Linked DNA regions of Homo sapiens: regions 1, 3, 4 and 5 are each reported to be linked to region 2. Evidence: microRNA targets listed by miRTarBase, many of them from high-throughput screens and not tested one by one. Region 2 holds a microRNA gene; each other region holds the end of a gene's coding sequence. Distances are from middle to middle.

Region 1 (4,677 bases), 34 Mb from region 2:
CCAGAAACCCTCCAAAGCTCTGGCTTGTGGGGACTCATCATTCCTTCTTCCCAGGCCACAAACATCCCAGGAGCGGCCGCATCCCAGCCTCCAGCCCGGCGGGAAGGGGACTTCCGGTTAGAGGGGGGTGTTCTTCTGGCCCACCCCAATCCTGCCGGGTCGGAGCTGAGCTGGGGCGCAGGGCTCGCAGAAGCCAGGTCCGCGGACCGCGCATCCTCCCTCCAGCCCACCTCCAGTCCTCCCCGCCCCCGCCCGCCCCCACTGTCCCCAAGGCCGCCCTGGCCCCTCTCCGCACGCACTGCGAGAGCGCCGAGACGTGGTTGAGCGCGTAGGACACCGGGAGGGCGCTCAGCGACAGCGCCGCGATCTTGCCGGCCAGCGGCGGGATGTCCATAGCGGCGGCTGCTGGACCCCGGCTCAGCCCCGACGCGTTCTCCAGGGCGCTCGGCTCCTCGTTGGCGGCGAGTCCGGGCCGAGGCTGCCAGGGACCCGCCCCGCACAAAGGTCGACCCCGCTGCGCCCTGGGCAGGCCGCCGTGACCGCCCTGCGTGTTCCCAGGGAGCCTCCAAGGCCCCTCCCCGGCCCTCCCCCTGGCAGCTGCCCCGCCCCTTCGCCCCTCACCATCGACACCCTCGTCTCCAATGGCCGTCCCGCTACTCAGCCTCAGTTTCCCTCACTGTCAAAGGCTGGGACACAACACCTCGGGATGCTTCTGCTCTTAGGCCAAGGGGTGCGCCCTGGAGGTCCTGGCGTGCCCCCTCTTTCCCCTGCCTCCACAACTTCGTTCTAAGGAAATTTTCTCCTGGACTCTGCGCTTCTAAACCTCTGCATTCCCCAGAGTTTCCCATCCCCACCCAAAGATCAAGTCGGCATTCCCTGTGCGCACGGATGGAGCAACCTCCAGCTCTTGGGTGCAAAATGCCTTTCAGTGGGCTTAGATTTGAGTTTTCATAAGGTGGCCACAAATGTAAACGTGTTTCCAGGCAGGTGTGAAGTTTTTTTGTTTGTTTTTTGAGAGGTCTCACTCTGTGGCCCAGACTGGAGTGCAGTGGCCCTCCTCCTTGAACTCCCAGCCTCAAGAGATCCTCCTACCTCAGCCTCCCAAGTAGTTGGGACTACAGGTATGCACCACCACGCGCAGCTAGTTATTTTTTGTAAAGACAGAGGTCTCACTTTTTTGCCCAGACTGGTTTCAAACTCCTGGGCTCAACAGATCCTCCCACATCAGCCTCCCGAGGAGCTGGGATTACAGGCGTGAGCCACTGCGAGGGGTCTTTAAGTGTGAGGCTTTGACTCCGGGGCTGTCCCTTTGCAGGCTAGTCCCGGGTTTAGGGTTCTTCATTTCGGGGAGAGGGTAGAAGGGGTCCTAGCGGGTGGGGGCTGAAGTTAGAATATCGGGATGGAGCCAGTTTGGTGAAGAGTTTGGGAACGGTGTTCCTGGCAGGGAGGAAAGTGGCTCAGGCTTGGAACTGAGCAGTGGAAAGGAGGTCGGTTCTGCTGGGGTGTGATGAGAAGCGAGACAGCTGTGAGAGGCTGTGGGAGGTTTTGAACAGCTGGGAGGGGGCCACAGTATTGGGGGGGAGAATAAGGAGACCATCTGTCTTTGTCACCCCCTCCAACCAGACTCTGGCCCATGTGGAGTACTTGTGGATGCTGCAGACAGCAAGGTGAACCATGCCCACCTGACGCCTGCCCTGCGGGACCCCAGTCTGCAGCTGGCACAAATTCTAACCACTGCCCCTACCTCAGGCCCCATTCTGCACGCAGCCCCTTAGCTTGATGCCAACTGGGTCACAGGTCTTCCTGAACTGGGCCACAAGAGGGTCTTCTGGCCGCAGGTCTGACTCAGCCTCCTTCCCCAGGTGTCCACTGCCCATGGGTGAAGTTCAGGTTCCCCTGGACTTTCCCCAACTCTAGCAGGGTCAACACCCCCCAGGCCTGCTTTCTGTCTGTAAAATGAGCCTTCTTGTAAGCGGGCCCCAGCATCCCCTCCTCCAGGCAGCCCTGCCTGCCACCCCCACCCCACCTTCTCCACACAAGGCCAGGGTGCCTGTGCCCAGCTCAGCCTAGGGGCTTGGCCTTGTCCCGTGTACAGGATGCACCTGCACACGCACACAGCACTTGGAGGCCTCGTCCCCTGGCAAGGGGTAAAGTCCATGCCCTGAGCCTGGTGAGCCTCCAGGTTGCTGAGAACTGAGAAGTGACTTGGATGGCTGAATGCCTGGGACCCAGTGCCAGGATTCCCTGAACCACTGGCTGCAGAGAACTACCCCGCTGTGCTCAGGGTCCTGGCCCACTGCCTTCTGGGCAGCCCTCATTCATGGGCACCCAGGCCAAGCCCACCAATGTTACTCTTTGCTCTGCCTCAGCCACAGCGTCAGGAAAGAACAAAGGGTGGTATATCACCCCAGCCTTGGCTCTGCCACTGCATCTGGCACCTCCCTGGTCTCAGACCCCACTGAGACACTCTGCAGACCGCCCCACCACGGCTCCCTGGTTCCTCTCAGTAGCAGCCTCAGACCTCATCCCCAGCAGCCTGGCTGACTGGAGTAGATCTTGTCCACCTGGTCCCCACACTTGGCACCTAGTGTTTGCTGAATGGCTGTGTGAACACAAGCTGGCCCAGGAGCCCGACTCCATGCCAAGCATGTGAATAGGGAGCCCCTGGTGCCTGCAGGGGCTGGGCAGCACCCACTGGGTGTGTGTGGAGGGGGTGGGGGCAGATGGAAATGCAAATTCCCAGGGCCCTGCCCAACCAGCTGACTCGGCAGCTGCAGCTTAACAAGATCCCCAGGGTGACTTAGGCACAAATGTGGGGCTCTGGCCCTGGGGCAGATGTGGGGGTCTTGGCACACACTGTGGCCTGGGCTACCCTCCTGCCTCAAAACCTCCGGCTCTGAGGCCCTTCCTTCTAGGAGCTGCCTGACATGTTGGCATGGCACATCCATGCATCCATGCGGCTGTCCCCTAACGACACAAGCCCCAGGGACTCGTGTGCCTACCACACTGGTGGGACCTGAAGGGCCACAGCCAACACCTGTGTGCTGGGCCGTGCCAGCACCACCTGCCAGGAGAGCACATGGGTGTGCCCAGAAGCCACCTGCCCCCACAGGTCTGAGGGAAGGTGGGGCCCTGCCTGGAGACCCCTCCCCAACCTCCCTCTGCAGCACAGTGCTAGGCTCGGAGGTTCCTGACATTCCTTTAGCCCAGGTGTGGCCAAGTCTCCAGCTTTATTATTATTATTATTATTTGAGACAGAGTCTTGCTCTCTTGCCCAGGCTGGAGTGCAAAGGCGCAATCTTGGCTCACTGCAACCGCTTCCCAGGTTCAAGCCATTCTCCTGCCTCTGCCTCCCGAGTAGCTGAGACGACAGGTGTGCACCACCATGCCCAGCTAATTTTATATTTTTAGTAGAGACAGGATTTCACCATGTTGGCCAGGCTGGTCTTAAACTCCTGACCTCCAGTGATCCGCCCGCCTTGGCCTCTCAAAGTGCTGGGATGACAGGGGTGAGACACTGCACCTGGCCTTCCAGCTTTACTATGCTGAAAACAACTTTCTTCCTCCCCTCCAGTGCAACCCAGGCTGAGCGGGGATGGAGACTCCACAGGCCAATAAGGAGAGCCCCGAGACAGCATCTTGCATCCCGCTGCTAACAGGAGGGGCTTCCTGCAACAGGACCAGGCATCTGTGGTGGATGAGCACTGGGACTTTATTACACGGCACGGCACTCGTGACAACGGAAGGGGTGGGCAGAAATGCAGGCCGGAACATTCCACAGTCCAGGGACGGTTGGTCATTCAGAAAGTATGTATTTCCAGAACACTCAGTAGTAAGGCCGTCTGGGATTGTTCTGTGGAAGGCAAAACAGATAACAGGAGGAGGGGATTAGCACTAAAGACAGCAGTTCCTCCTGTCTGGAACCTTCCGGAGGCAGCTGAGCCCGCACCCTTGAGGTGGCAGGGCAGGCTTGGGGGACGGGTGGGGGCTTGAATGCAGGTGGGTGGTAGGGGGCTCGCTGGTGAGACCCAGCCTGGCTGGACTGAGGAAGGAAGGGAGCCTTCTGTTCCTACCACCACCCTCTCCTGTCGACTGAGCAAAGGCAGCCCAGGAGGACATGCGTACCAGGGGGTTGGGCCGGAAGCGGTAGGCCAGCATCATCCTCTTGCGGAACGCCTCATACTCGTCGTCCTCCTTGGAGAGCTCCGCCGGCCGGTCAATGCCGAAGCCAGCGCCGTCCACTGTGGTGGTGCCCCTACAGGGAGAAGAGGATGTGAGCAGGGACCTGGGGCCAGAACTCTGGCCGGGGGGCCGGGCACAGCTGGGCTCTCAACAGCACCTCCCGCGGGTGCAGGGCTGGGCTGGGACATATCTGCACAGAGAGAAGCTTGAACCTGAATGGTCAAGGAGGGGAGACCCCCGGGGCGGGCGGGGGGGGGGGGCCTAGGCCCCAGGGTCCCACACAGGAAGGAGGAGCCCACAGTGCAAGTTGTCGCAGCTCTTGGGATGGCAGGATGGTTACTCAAGGACAGCCTTGAAGGGGGCACTCGGGGCCAGGGTCACACCTGGGAGAGCTCCTGCCCATCTCTGGGAGTGGTTTCGCACTCATGGGGAATTCAAATAAGGCCCTTCACAAGGCAGACAAGGCCTGACCCATCTGTACCCTCACCCACCCCA
Region 2 (4,677 bases):
ATTTGGAATGTCAGCCCCCAGCTGTCCTGTGTGATTGGCAGGTTAGGTCCTTGTTGAACCAGAAGCAACTGGCCAGTCGTACAGATGCAACTTTCGGACCAGTAGAAAATTTCTATGTCAACCTGGAGACATAGGGATTGTACCTTTCTGATACCCTATTAGTAAATAAATAGTATTTATTTATAAATTATGTATAATAGTATTTATCTGAATATATCCCAAGCAGCCCAAGTGTGTTCCAGACATAACATTTTTATTTACATTTAAATATCACTAAGATTAGAGATACACATCTAACTCAGGTTTTCAACTAGTCTTACCATTGAAAGAACTATTGTGGCAGGACGCAGTGGCGCACGCCTATTATCCTAGCACTTTGGGAGGCCGAGGAGGGCGGATCACAAGGCCAGGAGTTCGAGACCAGCCTGGCCAGCATGGTGAAACCCCATCTCTACTAAAAATACAAAAAAATTAGCTGGGCATGATGGCACAGGCTTGCAGTCCCAGCTACTCGGTAGGCTGAGGCAGGAGAACTGCTTGAACCCGGCAGACGGAGGTTGCAGTGAGCCGAGATCGCGCCACCGAACTCCAGTCTGGGCAACAGAGCAAGACGCTTGTCTTAAAAAAGAGAGAGAAAGAACTACTTGTTCTCTGTAAGCCATGCTGGTTTAGCCAAAATGCTGCAGTTGTGTATGGCCAGGGACGTTGAGGCTGCAGTGAGCCGACGGCTGTGTTGCCGCTCTGCAGTCTGGGGGACAGAGCAAGAACCTGTCTCAAAAAAACAAGAAGTTAGTGAGACAGACATGCCGTTCTGTTACTTTTCCCCTTGCTGGTTCAAAGCTAGGTAGTTGCCAATTAAATGTAATCTTGTAGAGCAAAAATGTTTTTCATTTTTTGAGACAGGATCTCACTCTATTGCCCAGCCTGGAGTGCAGTTGTGGGAACTCACAGCAACCTCCACCTCCTGGGTTTAGGCAGTTCTTCTGCATCAGTCTCCCGAGTAGCTGAGACTACACCGGTGCCCAGAGGGCAGTGGCCAGATCTTGGCTCTCTGCAACCTCTGCCTTCCAGATTCAAGTGAGCCACCTCCGCCTCCTGAGTAGCTGGGACTATAAGTACGTACCACCATACCCAGTTAATTTTTGCATTTTTTGTAGATAAGGGGGCTAAGTATGTTTCCCAGGCTGGTTTCGAAGTCCTGTGCTCAAGCAATCCTTCTGCCTTGGCTTCCCAAACTGCTAGGATTACAGGTGAGCCACCACACCGGGCCTGTCCACGTAATTTAAAAGGTGCTGGACGTGTGCGGTGGCTCACGTCTGTAATCCCAGCACTTTGGGAGGCTGAGGTGGGCGGATCATGAGGTCGGGAGTTCGAGACCAGCCTGGCCAATATGGTGAAACCCTGTCTCTACTAAAAATACAAAAATTAGCCAGGTGTGGTGGCAGGCGCCTGTAATCCCAGTTTCTCAGGAGGCTGAGGCAGGAGAATTGCTTGAACCCAGGAGGCGGAGGCTGCAGTGAGCTGATGATCGCGCCATGGCACTCCAGCCTGGGCAACAGAGCAAGACTAAGAAAAAAAAAAGAGAAAAAGAAAAAGAAAACAAAGTAATTTAAAAGGTGTTATTCAGGCTGGGGATCCCCAAAGTGCTGGGATTACAGGCATGAGCCCCAGGGCAGGCCTAGGATTTGCATTACAAGGCTCTGCATTGTTCCTGAGAACTGGAGAGAATGCTCAATCTACCTTTCACTATTGAGCAACATTCAGAAGTCAGTTTTAAATCTCTTATCTTCTGCATAGAGGATGTGCCTGCAGTTTCCAGGTACTGGACAATACAGGGAGGGTACTTCTCAGTCTGTGGCACTCAGCCTTGAGGGCACTTTCTGGTGCCAGAATGAAAGTGCTGTCATAGCTGAGGTCCAATGACTGAGGCGAGCACCGAAAAAACACCATGGGGGGGAGGGGGGGCGGGGGGCTCCAGGAGCCACTGCAGGTAAAAGCTAAACCGTGGTGCTTGTTCTGCGCCATAAACTGGACTTCAGCCCAGCTTTAAGGAAATGACCAGGGTCTCTGGGTTGTGAGGCTGGGTTCCGTAGCAGCTATAATGCTTGGATTCAGGGATAGCCTGGGTCACACCATTGCCAGAGAAGAGGCAACCAATCCAGACCCCAAAAGCGGGTTCTTGGATCTCTTGCTGGAAAGAATTTCGAGGCAAGTCACAACACAATGAAAGAAGCAAGCTGAGGCCGGGCGCGGTGGCTCACGCCTGTAATCCCAGCACTTTGGGAGGCTGAGGTGGATGGATCACCTGAGATCACTATTTTTCTTTTTATTTTCTGAGATGGAGTTTCACTCTTGTTGCCCAGGCTAGAGTGCAATGGCACGATCTCGGCTCACAGCAACCTCTGCCTCCCGGGTTCAAGCCATTCTCCTGCCTCAGCCTCCGGAGTAGCTGGGATTACTGGCATGCGCCACCACGCCCAGCTAATTTTGTATTTTTAGTAGAGACGGGGTTTCTCCATGTTGGTCAGACTGGTCTCCAACTCCCAACCTCAGGTGATCCGCCCGTCTCGGCCTCACAAAGTGCTAGGATTACAGGCGTGAGCCACCGCACCCAGCCTGTTTTCTGCATTTTTAGTAGAGACAGAGTTTCACTATGTTGGCCAGGCTGGTCTCAAACTCCCGACCTTGTGATCTGCCCGCCTCGGATTCCCAAAGTGCTGGGATTACAGGCGTGAGCCACCGCGCCCGGCCTTATTTTTCTTTTTTTTTTTTTGAGACAGGATCCCACTCTATTGCCCAGCCTGGAGTGCAGTGCAGTGATCTCAGCTCACTGCAACCTCTGCCTCCCGGGTTCAAGCAATTCTCCTGCATCAGCCGCCCAAGTAGCTGAGATTACAGCCGTGCCTGGCTTATGTTTTGTGTTTTTAGTGGAGATGGGGTGCCACCATGCTGGCCAGGCTGGTCTTAAACTCCTGACCTCAGTTGATCCTCCCACCTCAGTCTCCCAAAGTGCTGGGATTACAGGTGTGAGCCACCGCGCCCAGCAAGCATAAGATTTTTTGACACATGGAGGATCACTTGCTGGATGTGCACTGAGAAGTAATGTGCCCATTTCCCAGCCACACTCTCCCAAAGGCTTTTACAGGCGCTGTCCCCGTGAGGTGGTAGAACAGAATGTCAGAATTCAACACATTCCAACACTGTCTTCTGTTGAGCTGTAGGAGGACTGCCTGTGGAGGGACATGGGTTCTATGCTACCTTGCAGGTTTTCCCTGGGGCTTGTGATCACTGTCTCCTTGGTGACATGCAATCTGGGAGTGCTTTCTGGAGTCTGATAAGAACATACTGGCACATTGCCTGTGACGTGTGGGACCCAGGCATTTTCAGTGCTGAGGTGAGTCCTTGATTGTAACTGATGGGGACTGGTATCTTAACTCCAGGTTACTGAAGACTAGGAATTTCTTGCCTTACAGTAAAATTGCAAAGAAGAGTAGCATAAGAGGTAGATCAGAAGACTGCAGAATAGATTAACAAATGAATGCCCAAATGAGGATGCTAAACTTGGATTTGCATCAAGAAGACAGATATTGGTCGGGCGTGGTGGCTCACGCCTGTAATCCCAGCACTTTGGGAGGCTGAGGCGGGTGGATCATCCTGGCTAACACGGTGAAACCCCGTCTCTACTAAAAAAATACAAAAAAATTAGCCGGGCGTGGTGGCAGGCGCCTGTAGTCCCAGCTGCTGGGGAGGCTGAGGCAGGAGAATGGCATGAACCCAGGAGGCGGAGCTTGTAGTGAGCCGAGATCGTGCCACTGCACTTCACCCTGGGCGACAGAGCGAGACTCTGTCTCAAAAAAAAAAAGGACAGGTATTAGGATAGTTTTGAAGCCCACTTGCTCCTATCATGGCATTGAAGCATCAGTTTGCTGCCAATCACTCCTTCTTCTGTGTTCATAGACAGGACTGTGGAAATGTACACTTGGATTCTTTCACAGGTAATGCTGAGAAATTTAAAACCAAAAACGGCCGGGTGCCGTGGCTCCTGCCTGTAATTCTAGCACTTTGGGAGGCTGAGGCGGGCGGATCACAAGGTCAGGAGTTCGAGAGCAGCCTGGCCAATATGGTGAAACCCCATCTCCACTAAAAATACAAAAATTAGCCTGGCATAGTGGCGGGCCCCTGAAGTCCCAGCTACTCAGGAGACTGAGTAGACGAGGAGAATGGCTTGAACATGGGGTGCAGAGGTTGCAGTGAGCTGAGATCGCACCGCTGCACTCCAGCCTGGGCAACAAGAGTGAAACTCTGTCTCAAAAAAAAAAAAAAATTTGAAATTAAAGTGTATGATTAGAGTGCATGATTGGTTCTGACTGGATGTGTAACATGTGCATAGCCTTCTCATAAATCAAAGGTTTTTATGTGAAACCTACCACTAGTGATGTAACTGAATTTGTGTAAATGCTGGTGTGTCTGCCTTTTCCTAGCAACTCCCTGGGCAGCCTGAGGATTCTTTGAGGTTATTTTTTTTCAAGATCTGGCTGGGAGCTTCTGCATGAGTGCTGTGTGAACGTCCTCCATCTGCAGTGTGAGGACAGCGAACCCTAGTGTGAGTTAACCACGTAGGAAGAGTTTGAAGTCAGACATGACATTCAGACTGAGGTCCTCAAAACTGAGGGGCAT
Region 3 (4,677 bases), not on the chromosome of region 2:
TTCAGTCTCCTTCCTTCAAATGTTGTCCCGTACAATACACTTTCCACACAGTTAAAAGAATGACTCATCCATGGTTGGCTTGGTATTAATTGAAAGACCTGGTGTAAACAGTAAATATATTTGTACTATATTCTGGACTCTCAGCATTTTTATAAATGGCTAAAAATAAGACAGTTCTTTGTAGCAAATAGAGGAATTAGACCCGAATGTCCTTCAAGATGTTTTGGAGCATAATAGTAAGGCTTTATATAGTTACCACTTCCCGAACCCAAAATTAAAGTACATATTCCAGGAGGCAGTAGGGTACTTAGGGTTCAAATAATTATCATTTTATTAAACACCTTTTATGTTTGCTATGTACTTCATCTTACTTAATTCTAACATAGGTGGGCCAAGATAAACAGGACATTCTTCAAACATAATTTCTGGATTTGTTTAACATTTAATGGGGGTGGGACAAAACATTTTTAAATAATTTTTTTTGAGGCAGAGTCTCATTCTGTCACCCAGGCTGGAGTGCAATGGCGCCATTTTGGCTCACTGTAACCTCCACCTCCCAGGTTCAAGCAATTCTCCAGCTTCAGCCTCCCGAGCAGCTGGGATTACTGGCGCGCACCATCATGCCTGGCTAATTTTTATATTTTTAGTAGAGACGGGGTTTTACCATGTTGGCCAGGTTGGTCTCGAACTCCTGACCTCCTGTGATCCACTCGTCTCAGCCTCCCAAAGTGCTGAGATTACAGGCGTAAGCCACCATGCCCAGCCTAAAAAACAATTATTATTTTATTTTTTTAGATAAGTGTTTACTGATATTTTTATTTTGGAGCTCCAAAGGAAAACAAGTCACATCTATTATTTTGCATTTTTCATGTAAGAATAAAACATTTTCCTTTAACAGATACCAACTTATTTTTTCTTTTTACTCTTTTTCTAAATTCATCCAATAAACATTATGCCGTTGTGAAAACAAAAGTTTATTTATATATATATATATATATTTTTATTATACTTTAAGTTCTAGGGTACATGTGCACAACGTGCAGGTTTGTTACATATGTATACATGTGCCATGTTGGTGTGCTGCACCCATTAACTCGTCATTTACATTAGGTATATCTCCTAATGCTATCCCTCCCCCCCACCCCACAACAGGCCCCAGTGTGTGATGTTCCCCTTCCTATGTCCATGTGTTCTCATTGTTCAATTCCCACCTATGAGTGAGAACATGCGGTGTTTGGTTTTTTATCCTTGCGATAGTTTGCTGAGAATGACGGTTTTTAAAAAATTTAGATAGAGACAGGGTCTTGCTATGTTGGCCAGGGTAGTCTCTAACTCCTGGCCTCAAGCAATCATCCCACCTTGGCTGTCCAAAGTGCTGGAAATAAAGGCGTGAGCCACTATGCCCAGCCACAAATTATTTTTTATTAATACAAACTGTATATAGCTGGCCGGGTGGCTCACGCCTGTAATCCCAGCATTTTGGGAGGCTGAGGCGGGTGGATCACGAAGTCCGGAGTTTGAGACCAGCCTGGCCAACAAAGAACAATACATTTGTAGAGAAATGACAGGACAAAGGAAAGTGGTTTTAGGCTTCCAAGGACTGGAACCTTTGGGAAGGCAAACACTGTATGTGGGAGGAAACTAATTGAATAAGGTTTCTTTGCCAATTCCTCTGGTGCTGTCCCTGGTAGATAAGACTCTAGAATTGTCTCCAGCAAAGGAGAAGTTATATCCTGCCTTTGGGCAGAAAGGCAGGGGGATGGCGAGAGCTTTCCTCAGTTTGCTGCTTCTTAACTGCCTTTAGCTCAAAAATATTTTTATGTCAAAGAGGCATTTTAGGATGATATGTTCTGATTTCCTTCATAGCAAAAGATGAGTGGATTTCTATTGGTGGCCGTTGGTGTTTTTTAAAGACGTGCATGCACACATATACATCAGCTGTCAAAACCATCCCCTTTTTCCCATTGTTCTTTCCTCTTAGGTTTTTCCCTAGCAAGTGTCTGAATCTACATCTTGACAGGTATAAATTTAGATAATAAGTCACCTGTTCCCAATAAATACCATTACAGCATGCCTTACCTGTGGCTGAATTTCAAGTGACTATAGCTTCACATGCTAGGTCTGTTAGTAAACAGTGTAACTTTCCACTCAAGGCCATTGTCTTGTGCATTGGGAATATGCTCAGAGAACATTTCCCCGATTATTCAGTAATGTTTCAAGTCCCTGTTAAGGTTAATATCCTGGGTAGCAACTAAATTGGCTTGTTCCTCAATCTACTCTGTTCATTCCAACTCTCCAAATTAATCACTATTAATCCCCACTATACAGTGAGTCATCAATAGCTCAGTTTAACCTGCCAGAGGCCTTTTATTGTGGCAGAGCAGTGATTTCAACAATTTGTGTTTGATTCCCAAACTTTTTTTCTTTCTACTACTGGCAAATACCATAAAAGGATAATAGATAATTCTATGCTTTTGCCTAATTTAAGGGAAAGATGTAATTCAAAGTTTTGAACAACTGTATTTTGAACATTTTACTAGAAGTGACCATTAAATCTAAGTAGTTATTACTAAAACAAGCTCAGTAAAACCATTAACCCATGGATTCAGTTATATAGCACTAATTATAATGGTGTATCTTTCACTGTAACCATTTTAAATTTGTACATTTTGTCAACTACATTGCAACAGGGCTGTTGATTGGGATGGTAATGGAAAGTAAAAACACTAAACCCGATGTGCAAAAGGAACAAGTTTTTTTTCCCCCGGAAATGGGGTCTCGCTTTGTTGAAAAGAATGATGTTGACAGATAATGTACTTGTGATAGTTATATTTATTAAGCAAAAGAAAATTATGTTTTGTTTTTTAAGGACCAATCTGTTTCTGATAATGTTGCATGTTTTAAATAAATGACAATAAGATGTAAAGCATCACATTTTCTATTAAAATTGAACAAGCTATTCAAATTGCTACATTATATCACACCTAATTGTTCCAGTAGTATTTTTTTTTTTTTTGAGACTGAGTCTCATTCTGTTGCCCAGGCTGAAATGCAGTGATGTGATCTCAGCTCACTGCAATCTCCACCTCCTGGGTTCAAGCGATTCTCATGCCTCAGCCTCCCAAGTAGCTGGGACTACAGGTGTGCGTCACCATACCTGGCTAATTTTTCTATTTTTAGTAGAGACCAGGTTTTGCCATGTTGGCCAGGCTGGTCTCAAACTCCAGGCCTCAAGCGACTTGCCTGCCTCAGCCTCCCAAAGTGCCGGGATTACAGGCATGAGCCATCGCACCCGTCCTCCAGTACCATTTTAAACAAATACATATTGTGGACTACGCACCAATAGAAATTAAGGTGGCAAAACCGTATCATTAGTAAAGTAAGTGAAAGCCTTAGTCTTTTTGTTTATTCCTTATTCCCCAAAGGAGTTACTAAGTGAAGGAATTTTCCAGCTGCCTTTATTTTTTTGAGACGGAGTCTTGTTCTGTTGCCCAGGCTGGAGTGCAGTGGCACGATCTTGGCTCACCACAACCTCCTCCTCCTGGGTTCCAGCGATTCTCCTGCCTCAGCCTCCAGAGTAGCTGGGACTACAGGCGCCCACCAACATGCCCGGCTAATTTGTGTATTTACAGTAGAGATGGGGTTTCATTATGTTGGCCAGGATGGTCTTGAACTCCTGACCTCAAGATCAGCCTGCCTCGGCCTCCCACAGTGCTGGGATTACATGCGTGAGCCACTGCGCCCGGCCTTCCAGCTGCATTTCTGAGGTCACAAGTATGGCCTTAAATGATTGCCCTCAAGAACACAGCTTTTGAAGGTAATCATATGCAAGTAAATTACAATCAAATGGAACTGTATGATTATTTTATTATTTTAATGCTAAACTGAACAGTGAACTGAAATCAGAGGAGAAAGAAAATCAAGCTAGTGGCTCACTCTCAATAGTGTCCTCTAATTTTATTGATGCTTCAGTTTTCATAAAGTGCAATAAACAAAATAAATAAATGAAAAAAGCTTTGAAGATTTATATACAGTTTTGAGGTTAAGATAAATTACTGACTATATTCCTTTCAGCCTTTTAACTCTGTGAAAGCTGTAACGTACATTAAAAGCACATTGAACTAGGTTAAATAATGATCTTTCCCCCTTAGATCAATCTAGTATTAAGGAGTATATAATTATGCAAGTTCATTCTATAACACAAGGCTAGACTAAAAGGAAAATTTTTGTGCTACAGACTAAATCCAGATACAGTCAGGTGCTGAGCAGTATTCCTGGCTTCAAAATAGGAGGTATCTGTTTCATCATCTGGCTGGGGGATGAAAGGCATAGTCTGATGCTGCAGATTTTCCCAGTCCACATCACTGAAGAGAGGATGACGTTTTAGCTCTTAGGAAAAATATAAAACAAAACAGTATGATATCATTACCTAAGTAAGTACTGCTTTACAGGAATTATTATAAAAAGAGAATGTCTCACATATAACTTACCTTACTTTATTATGTCAGTTTCACAGACATTTGTTTAATGTCTGTTAGGCCACATACTTCACAAAGGTCTACATGGGCCATTTTGAATATCACTTGGCATATGACAGGTGCCTGGTTTGTATTTGTTTAATGACAGAATGAATGATTTGCCTTAACTTAGAAGCCTATCTTTCTCACAGCTTTTTTT
Region 4 (4,677 bases), not on the chromosome of region 2:
TAAATGTAATGAGTGTGGGAAGTCCTTTCACTTCCAGTCAGAACTTAGGCGCCATCAGCGATGTCACACTGGAGAAAAGCCGTATGAATGCAGTGACTGTGGAAGAGCCTTTGGTCATATTTCATCCCTTATTAAACATCAAAGAACTCATACTGGAGAAAAGCCCTATGAATGCAGTGAATGTGGGAGAGCCTTCAGCCAGAGTTCGTCTCTTGTTCTGCACTATAGATTTCACACTGGAGAGAAACCCTACAAATGTAATGAATGTGGACGAGCCTTTGGTCACACTTCATCCCTTATTAAGCATCAGAGGACTCATACTGGAGAAAAGCCCTATGAATGCCGGGAATGTGGGAGAACCTTCAGCCAGAGCTCATCACTCATTGTGCATTACAGATTTCATACTGGAGAGAAACCTTACAAATGTAATAAATGTGGGAGAGCCTTCAGCCAGAGTTCATCTCTCACTCAACATTACAGATTTCACACTGGAGAGAAACCCTACAAATGTAATGAGTGTGGAAGGGCCTTTGCTCATACTGCATCCCTTATTAAACATCAGAGAAGTCATGCTGGAAAAAAAACCCTATAAATTCAGTGAATATAGAAGGGCTTTCAGCTGGAGTGCAGACATCACTGGAACTTAAAGAATTCATATCAGAGAGAGATCCTAAAGGTGTAATGTATGTGGGAAGACCACATCTTGTTCCACATCAGGCAATAATTACTAAAGAGAATCCCTGTCAATGTCAAGAGGGGGTGGGCTTCCCCTCTCTTACCAAACATGGGAGAATCCATACTAGTGAGAAACCACGTGAATGTAATGAATGTGGGAACGCTTTGATCAGAGGATGCATATTATTCAGCATCAGACAGCCGACACTGGGGAGGAGCCTTATCAATGCAGTGAGTGTGGCAAGCCTTCAGTTACATACTGATTCTTTAAGAAAATCAGATAACTTGTACTGGAGAGAAATCCTACAAGTGTGGTAAGTATGGAAAAATCTTCAGTTGTATCTCTTCCTTTACTAAGCATCAAGAACACATACTAGAGAGAGGCCCTATGAAAGCAGGAAATAGAGGAAGGCCTTCAGTCAGGGCTCATCCCTTATTAAGCATCAGAAAATTCATACCTGAGAAAAACCTGTGAATGTGGGTAATGTGGGAGAGCCTTCAGCCAAACCTCATTGCTTTATAAACCCCTTAGAACTCTCCCTACTAGCTGGAAACTCTGGTGACGTGATGAATGTGGGAAGGGCTTTGGTGGATGTTCCACCAAAACACGTTAGAGAATTTGTACATTAGAGAATTTGTGCTAGAGCAACTCTTCAAATTTAGTGAAACTGGGAAAACCCATTAGTAGAGTTCAAGCTTCAGTATTCATCTCAAAGAGAAACCTTGGGAACATGATGAATGTGAGGAAAGTTCCTTTCCAACTTGAGATGTATAAAACTAGAGCTGAAAAGAAGCTGAGAAATCACCTTGTCTGGTGATTTTCTGCCTGGTGGGGCCATTTGTATAACGACACTTGTGCATTGCCTCCTCATGCTGTTACTGACGGGGCAGGGTGTCATGCATGGGTGCAGAGGATGGAGGCTGAGAAAGGTAGACAGCTACCCATGATCTAGCCCAGTCGTATTTTAGAGCTAATAAAACTGATGTTCAGAAAGTGACATGCCTTGGCCTATAGTCCTAACTGGGCTGGGCCTCTTTCCTGTGGTTCACAGCTGTAGTATGGAGATTAATAGACTGGATCTTTGCAGTACAACACCTCTATGCACTTCTTTCTCTGTAGCACATGTTACCTTTCTTTGTGAGGCAATGGAGTGGTCTAGGATTGAGCAAAAAGCAATTTTTGTTACATCTTTATGCTAATAGATTTGGAATTTTTGAAATGAAATGAAACCTTGTTTAAACATTAAAATTACTAAAATAGGCTGGGCGCGGTGGCTCACGCCTGTAACCTCAGCACTTTGGGAGGCCGAGGCGGACAGATCACGAGGTCAGGAGTTCGAGACCATCCTGGCTAACACAGTGAAACCCTGTCTCTCCTAAAAATACAAAAAAATTAGCCAGGCATGGTGGCGGGCGCCTGTAGTCCCAGCTACTTGGAAGGCTGAGACAGGAGAATGGCGTGAATCGGGGAGGCAGAGCTTGCAGTCAGCCGAGATCACGCCACTGCACTCCAGCCTGGGAGACAGAGTGAGACTCCGTCTCAGAAAAAAAAAAAAAAAACAACTAAAATATGGGTATTATGCACAATCCAGATCTCAAAAACGTGATTCTAAGTGAAAGAAGGCAGATGCCAGAGACCAGGTATTTTCTAGTACCATTTTAGGAAATGTCCAGAAATGGCAGATCTTCAGAAACAAAGTAACTGCAAATGTTACAAGGAATCTTTTTAGGGTGACGAAAATGTTCTAAAACTAGATGGTGGTGATGGTTGAACGATTTGGTAACTTCACTAAAAATCATTGAATTGTTCACTTTATATGGGCAGATTTTATGGTAAATATACCTCAATAAAATCATTTTTCAAAATCAAATTTACACATATACCAACCATTGCTAAACAAGTATTCCTGTTTTGTTTGTTACTTCAAGCCATCTATGCATTTTTGGTATCACTTTTTATTTTCTGTAACAGTTACCCCTACATTTACTGGGTCTCAGAACCTTGTCAGGCTCTGCTTTAAAGTTCCTACCATGTTGGCTCTGTAACTCAGGTGGAGAAGCCTAGACCAGGAGCTGGCGTAGACCAAAGGATACTTGCCTAATAAGGATTAGCTTATACTGAGGAAAATACTTTAAGCATTTAAAGTCCAGATGAGGAAGTTGAGCCCAGAATTCAGGGAACCAGCTCAAAGTGGGCCCATGCAGACAGGCTGGGTCTAAGAGTCCACAAGGTTGGCCAGGGCAGGTAGGATGCACAGGAGGCATCTGGATCTGGAAGTACTTGGACAGCTGAGGTCAAGATCACACAGAAATTTATTCCTGGACAGCCAAGGTTTACAGGAGCAGAAATAGCAAATATTTTCTTGCTCCGTCTCTCCCTTTTTTCCCAGTGCCCTTTTCTGTACCTACCCAGATCACTTTATACCTAGACATCTGTCACAATTTTGTAACTGGTCTTCGTCCAAAATCTGTCTCCTCTTCTCATGTATCCTTGCCATATTAACCATACTTACCAGTTTGAACCCAGTGTCCTGCCCTCCAAAAATCCTTTGCACGGCCTACAAGATAAATCCTCACCCCCCGTGTGTGGTATATAATGCCCTCTTTAGGCTGCTCCAACCTCCTGCTGCTCCTGACAGAAGCCTCCATTGCACACAAATGCTCTCTTGTCATCCCTCAGACATGCCTTTCCACATCTCAGCCTGCAAACCTTTACCTTAGCTGTTCTATCAGCCGGGGGCACCTTCTCTACTTACCTAAAGCCTACATAATCAGTCAGAAACCTGTGTAAATTTCCCTTCCTTGGAGAGGTGTTCTCTTGAAAACTGATATGAAGTCATATCTTACCATTTGTAATCATAAACATATTTGTTTGTGTAAGTTTTTAAAAATGGACAATATCTAGACTTGTGGTAAATCGTATCACTGTCTTGATCTATTTAAATAATTTTTTATCACTTTACCACTTTCTTGTTTCCTGAACCAGATGACAATGGAAAAAGTCAAATGGTAAAATATTTTAAGAGATTTATTCTGAGATAAATATGAGTGACCTGTAGGCACAGTTGACCAGCATTTGCCTTAAAACAGAGACCTTAAGACTAACAAAAACAGACTCTTTGTAGCAATAACAACATGACAGTAAGTCCTGAGAGAAATCAAAGTGTTTTACGCCAAAATAGATTTAAGTCTGATAAGAAACAAGTCTGACACAGCCCCAGGAGATCCTGAGAACATGTGCCCAAGGTGGCTCTTGTCAGGAGCAGCAGCAGGTTGGGGCAGCCTAAAGAGGACATTACCAAACACGGGAGTGAGGATTTATCTTGTAGGAAGTGCAAAGGATTTTTGGAGGGCAGGACACTGGGTTCAAACTGACGAGTATGGTTAACATGGCAAAGGTACGTGAGAGGAAGAGACAATTGTGCTGTCAGGCTACAGCTTGGTTTCATGCATTTTTACATTTTAGGGGAATGTAAGACATCAATACATGTAAGATTTACATTGGTTCGATGGAGAAAGGCAGGACAACTTGAAGCTGGTGGGGAAGGGACAGGGACAGAGGGAGGGCCTTCTGGGTTATAGGTGGATTCAAAGATTTTCTGATTGGCAGTGGGTTTATCCAAAGACCTGGAATCAATAGAAGGGAATGTCTGGGTTAAGATAAGGTGTTGTGGAGACCAAGGTTCTTACTGTGAGATGAAGCCAGAAGGTAGCAGGCTTCAGAGAGAATAGATTGTAAATGTTTCTTATCAGACTTAAGAGAAATTTATTTTAGGATAAAATACTTAGATTTCTCTCAGGGCCTGTTATCTGTCATGTTATCTTATTGCTACAAAGAGCCTGTTTTTGTCAGTCTTAAGGTCTCTGTTTTAATGTTAATGCTGGTCCACTGTGCCTGAATTCCAAAGAGAGGAAGGTATAATGAGGTATGTCTGACCACCCATTCCCATCATGGCCTGAGCTAGTGTTTCAGGTTTACTTTAGAATGCTCTTGGCCAAGTG
Region 5 (4,677 bases), not on the chromosome of region 2:
AAGTAAGGAACTCCCTTACCTCTATATCTTTGTAAGATATAGTAAGTAAGGAACTCCCTTACCTCTATATCTTTGCCTCTGCTAGGCATTGCCCACCTGTGAGTCCACACTTCCTCTGAGAATCTGTGTGTCTGAGCCTTGGTGGCACCTTGGGACCCTCCAGGGTGGGCACACAGCAGAACTCAGCACTGGTCTTTGGTGCCCGACATGCTTAGAAAATAGTGGCTGGTGCCGGGCACGGTGGCTCACGCCTATAATCCCAGCACTTTGGGAGGCCGAGGCGGGCGGATCATGAGGTCAGGAGATTGAGAAACCCTGGCTAACACGGTGAAACCCCGGCTAACACGGTGAAACCCCGTCTCTACTAAAAATATAAAACATTAGCCGGGCGTGGTGGCGGGAGCCTGTAGTCCCAGCTACTCCGGAGGCTGAGGCAGGAGAATGGTGTGAACCTGGGAGGCGGAGACTGCCGTGAGCCATGATCGTGCCACTGCACTTCAGCCTGGGCGACAGAGCAAGACTCCGTCTCAAAAAACAACAACCAAAAAAGAAAAAAAGAAAATCGTGGCTGGAGGAATCTTCTCTCCCTCCCTACCTTTTAGGTCCCTCTCCACCTGCAGCACAGCCAGGCAGTGGCTGGCAGTGGTGATGGTCTTTGCGTGGGGTCAGGCAGGTATGATGCCCCACTCTGCTGCTTGGCGGCTGGTAGGCCTTGGGAGTTCTGCCTTATCTCTGCAGCTCAGATTTCTTTCCTGTCAATGGGATAGTAACACCCACTTCACTGGATTATTGGGAAGATTAAATGAGGTCCACTAAGCAGTGCTTACCACATGCCCAGCGCACACAATATATCAGCTATTTTTTTTAAGACAGAGTCTCACTCTGTCTCCCAGGCCGAAGTGCAGCGGCACGATCTTGGCTCACTGCAACCTCCGCCTCCGGGTTCAAGTGGTTCTCCTGCCTCAGCTTCCTGAGTAGCTGGGATTACAGGCACCCGCCATCATGCCCAGTTAATTTTTGTATTTTTGTAGAGACGGGGTTTCACCATGTTGGCCAGGCTGGTCTTGAACTTCTGACCTCAGATGATCCAACCTCCTCGGCCTCCCAAAATGCTGGGATTACAGGTGTGAGCCACCATGCCGGGGTACATCAGCTATTATGACTACTTACATTATATGATAAGCTCTTGGGGGTTGGATTGGAATCTCCAAACCACCTGTCCTCCTTCAGAGAGAAGAGGAAAAGGGGAAGTCTCAGCTACTCAGGAGGCTGAGGCAGGAGAATTGCTTGAACCCGGGAAGTGGAGGTTGCAGTGAGCCAAGATCACGCCACTGCACTCCAGCCTGGGCATTGGAGTGAGACTGTATCCAAAAAAAAAAAAAAAAAAAAGGGAGGGGAGAAGGGGAAACAAGTGGCCTCAGGGGCGCTTTGCTGAGGCTGGAGAGGGCCTGAACCCACCGGCAGGGCAGCACCAGGTCACGTGCTGTGGCCCTCCTCTGGGCCTCCCTCTCCCAGTTTCTCTTCTCTTCTCCGGGCCTACCATCTACTGTCCTGGAGGGAGGTGAAGCCCTTGGGGGAAGCTGGGGCACCTAGATTGGCAGAGGGTGCCACCTTGTAATCTGAAAGGGGCCTTTAAGGACAGGAAATCTCAGACCTGAATGTTGTCTGTTTCCATCCCATTTTACTGCAACCTGATTTCCCTGAGAATTAAGTCTGTTTCCTGCTCCTGTTCTTAAAATGGACAGTGGTGTGGGCCTCCCCTTGGAGGGGTCCCCTGGGCTTCTCCTGGAACTTCTGAGGAAGGTCAGCAGCCAAGTAAAAGTCATTTTGAGCCCTAAAACCATGAGCCCTGAATCGGGGGATCCACTTAAATAACCCTTCTTTCCTGAGCCCCATCTCTCCTTTATTTCTCCTCTGAGAAATGTCCCCTGTATCCTGAGGTTTCACATGATCCAGTGTCAAGGGTCTGTGTTTTGACATTTAAGTCACAGGAAAAGAAGCCACCGGCGTGGGATCAGCTTGAGTTGTTATACAAGTGTGGGTACACCTCCCCAGAGACCCTGAGATCCTACCCCAGGAAGAGCCTGACTGCTGGGCTTGGCAAGGTGGTTTTCTTACTCTCTTCTCCCTGCCCACTCCTGGCATGCAAGCCCTCTGCCTACAAGTGTTTGCCACGGACCTCCCAAGCCTTCCCCCGTGCCAGGGACTAACATGAGGGTAGGGGACCCTGACAGATGGTAACAGATGGCTGGTGGTCTCCCCCCTGGCCGTGGCAGTGTTAGAATTCAGAAGCCAGACCAGTGATGAGAAAGATCAGGTCTTTACTGCAAAATCATTCAAAACTCACACGGCAGCAATTCCTTCAATACATTGCAAAGACTCCTCAGGGCCAGAGCCCTGCTCACTAGGAACAGTGTATTGCATAAAATAACATTTTAAAAATAGTGTGGGCACTACCTTTCTGAGGGAGGGGAGGCGGGAAGAGTCAATGCATCTGAAAGCACTGGCAGCTTCTGGGGAACGGGCCCCCCAGGGCCTCAAACCTGCTGCCTCCGAGGGCACCTTCGGGGAGAATCCTCACAGGCCCAAGCCCTCCCCAGGCCAGGCTCCTGCCCACTCAGGGATGGGGCAATGAGGGCTCTGACTAGGCTGGGCTTGTGGTGGAGCGTTAATGTGGGCCATGGCGGTGCATAACCCAGCTCCTGGCTTAGGAGGCATTGGCGTCTGGGCACAGGTGTGTGCCATGACCGGGAGAAGCTGTGCGCAGCCTCCACCTGCCTGCCACCGTTGCCTCTGTTCTGCTGCACAGGCATCCAGCTCCAAGGCTGGGTGGGTGACTCAGCAGCTAATCGCCCCCAGGGAAGGGTGGGGGTGGGCTCATCTCTGACAGTGACATGCGGCTCTCCACCTGAGGCCTGACTCCAAGCTGAGCGCAGGTAAGACAGCTAGGACTGAGGGCCTGCTAGGTCCAGGAGAGGTGGGGGAAGGCGACAGAGAGACCAGCAAACCCACATTTCCCCGAAGCCTGGAGGGTCTGACCATCACTTTGAAAACAATTCCAGACTCCCACCCCAGCCCCAAGGCCCCTTCAAAGGCAGTCCTGCTCCGGGGAACTTCTTCAGTCTCCAGTGTCCCGGCTGGGCAAGTTCAGTGATGCTTTGGGAATTCATGGCTTTGTGAGGTGGTGGCTGCATCCACAGGGCAGTTCCCCCGCACGCCCTGCACAGCTTAGGACCAGGTCACTTCTCCACAGTGCAGGGCGTGGCTGCCTGCCCTCTCTGGGGTCCTGCCTATCTGTGCCCTGGCAGGGGTCAGTCAGGCAGAGAGTGTGACCCCGGGCACCCACCAAGGTGGGCCTGGAGCATCTGCAGCAGCGCCCCTGTCTGTAGAGGGGTGAGGAGCGCACGGGGATCGGGGGTGGGCAAGACGGCGACCCTCCATAAACCGAGGAGGGCTCAAAGTGCTGACAGTGCTGGTTTCCAGTCATTTCTCCTTCTCCTAATGGGGCCAAGGCCCCAGGCTAGAGAAGAGCTAGGGGCTCTGACGCTGAGAAAGCGGTGGGCTCAGCAGGCGAGACGCACTGGGGTGGGGAGTAAAGAGGACACAGAGGAACCGGGGTCGCCAGGACTGGCCCTGCCCTGCTGAGGGGCGGTTTGGCACTGGCAGTGAGGGCCAAGGAAAGGCACTGGGTGGGCCCATAGACCCTGTCCCAGCAGTGGCCTGCCCACCAGCCACCCGCTACCTCTAAGCCAGGCCTGAGTGGCTCCTGTGCATCCGCTGGGGGTGAGAATGTCTGGATTTCATGGGTGACTCACGTAGGGTCAAGAATAAAAAAATACTTTCTGTTGAAATATGAATGGGAAAAACCCACCTTAAAAAACTAGACCTTTTAATCAGGAATGTGGAATTGAAAATGCTCCCCAAGTCCCCTTTCCACAGTGTTTGGGCAGCCCTAACGGAGGCGCCGGGACGCTGGTGAGCCAGGGCCTGGTGAGTAAACGGCCCTGCCTGCCCCAGACAGGGAGCATCTGGTGGTGGCCACGCCTCCTGCAGCAGAGGGGTGGGGGGAGGGCCAGGGGACACCACGGGGACTTCCTGGGCTTTCTCTGGGAGGCCGGTGCTCTGGCCACATCTGAGGGTCTTCCTGACAAGGGGACACAGCTGTGACACGGTGAGTATCCTGGGCTGATGGCAAACCCAGCCGGGATGGCTGAGCCACACTCACCCCCGGCTTTCAGAGCGGGGTCAGCAGATGGGCATCAGGCGAAAATGTTCTGTTCCTGGTACTTGCGCCGGCGGGCACAGCGGGGGCAGCCCTTCTTCACCACAGCCTGGCAGCTCTGGTGGAAGACGGTCTTGCACTCGGCACACCTGGGGAGAGAGCAGTAGGCCTGCTGGTGCCGGCTGGGCTGGAGGTTGCCCTGTGGCCACGCTGGCCAGCCCTTTTGACCAGAACCCACGATACGGCTGTGATGTACTGTGTAACCCATGCACGCACACCGTGCCTCTCCGTTCTGGAACAGGAGAGTCTTGAAACAGTGCTTACCCATACGTCACACAATGCACACTGATATTCTCTGTCCTATTGCATTTTTTATAAATGCTGCTTGAGATTCATTAAAGATCTCTTGCCTATATTTAAAAAATATTTACGGCCAGGCGCAGTGGCTCACGCCT

The links. The annotated mature microRNA hsa-miR-512-3p reads AAGUGCUGUCAUAGCUGAGGUC and lies in region 2 at 1,896-1,917, shown strand. An mRNA with a match to its seed (bases 2 to 7 or 8) in the 3' UTR can be bound and repressed. Matches are read on the target gene's strand: a 7mer-m8 pairs with bases 2 to 8, a 7mer-A1 pairs with bases 2 to 7 and ends in A, and an 8mer does both.
Region 1: the mRNA of SUGP1 is a reported target of hsa-miR-512-3p. Seed matches in the 3' UTR shown: 7mer-m8 at 3,492-3,498.
Region 3: the mRNA of MASTL is a reported target of hsa-miR-512-3p. Seed matches in the 3' UTR shown: 7mer-m8 at 3,711-3,717.
Region 4: miRTarBase lists ZNF514 as a target of hsa-miR-512-3p. Seed matches in the 3' UTR shown: 7mer-m8 at 1,967-1,973.
Region 5: the mRNA of PLEKHM1 is a reported target of hsa-miR-512-3p. Seed matches in the 3' UTR shown: 7mer-m8 at 3,469-3,475 and 7mer-m8 at 3,460-3,466.

Annotation. Positions count from the first base shown.
Region 1 is chr19:19,272,822-19,277,498 of GRCh38, forward strand. It overlaps SUGP1 (SURP and G-patch domain containing 1), which reads right to left. Exons shown (of 14, transcript NM_172231.4): 13 at 4,126-4,255; 14 at 3,212-3,853. The coding sequence ends at 3,827. TM6SF2 (transmembrane 6 superfamily member 2) reads right to left here and starts at 480. Exons shown (of 10, transcript NM_001001524.3): 1 at 300-480. The coding sequence starts at 394.
Region 2 is chr19:53,667,318-53,671,994 of GRCh38, forward strand. MIR512-2 (microRNA 512-2) reads left to right here and starts at 1,840; the gene lies at 1,840-1,937. The region is part of intron 2 of LOC107985342 (a long non-coding RNA gene); the gene reads left to right. It overlaps MIR1323 (microRNA 1323), which reads left to right and starts at 4,651; the gene lies at 4,651-4,677. RefSeq lists enhancers at 1-62, 951-1,839, 1,840-2,727.
Region 3 is chr10:27,186,091-27,190,767 of GRCh38, reverse strand. MASTL (microtubule associated serine/threonine kinase like) reads right to left here. Exons shown (of 12, transcript NM_001172303.3): 12 at 2,815-4,389. The coding sequence ends at 4,232. It also overlaps a transcript of ACBD5 not described here. Among named protein-coding and RNA genes, the nearest start is that of MASTL, 33 kb to the right of the region's middle.
Region 4 is chr2:95,145,197-95,149,873 of GRCh38, reverse strand. ZNF514 (zinc finger protein 514) reads left to right here. Exons shown (of 5, transcript NM_032788.3): 5 at 1-4,677. The coding sequence ends at 592. Among named protein-coding and RNA genes, the nearest start is that of ZNF514, 12 kb to the left of the region's middle.
Region 5 is chr17:45,433,599-45,438,275 of GRCh38, forward strand. PLEKHM1 (pleckstrin homology and RUN domain containing M1) reads right to left here. Exons shown (of 12, transcript NM_014798.3): 12 at 2,302-4,371. The coding sequence ends at 4,260. Among named protein-coding and RNA genes, the nearest start is that of ARHGAP27, 3.1 kb to the left of the region's middle. RefSeq lists an enhancer at 2,241-2,894.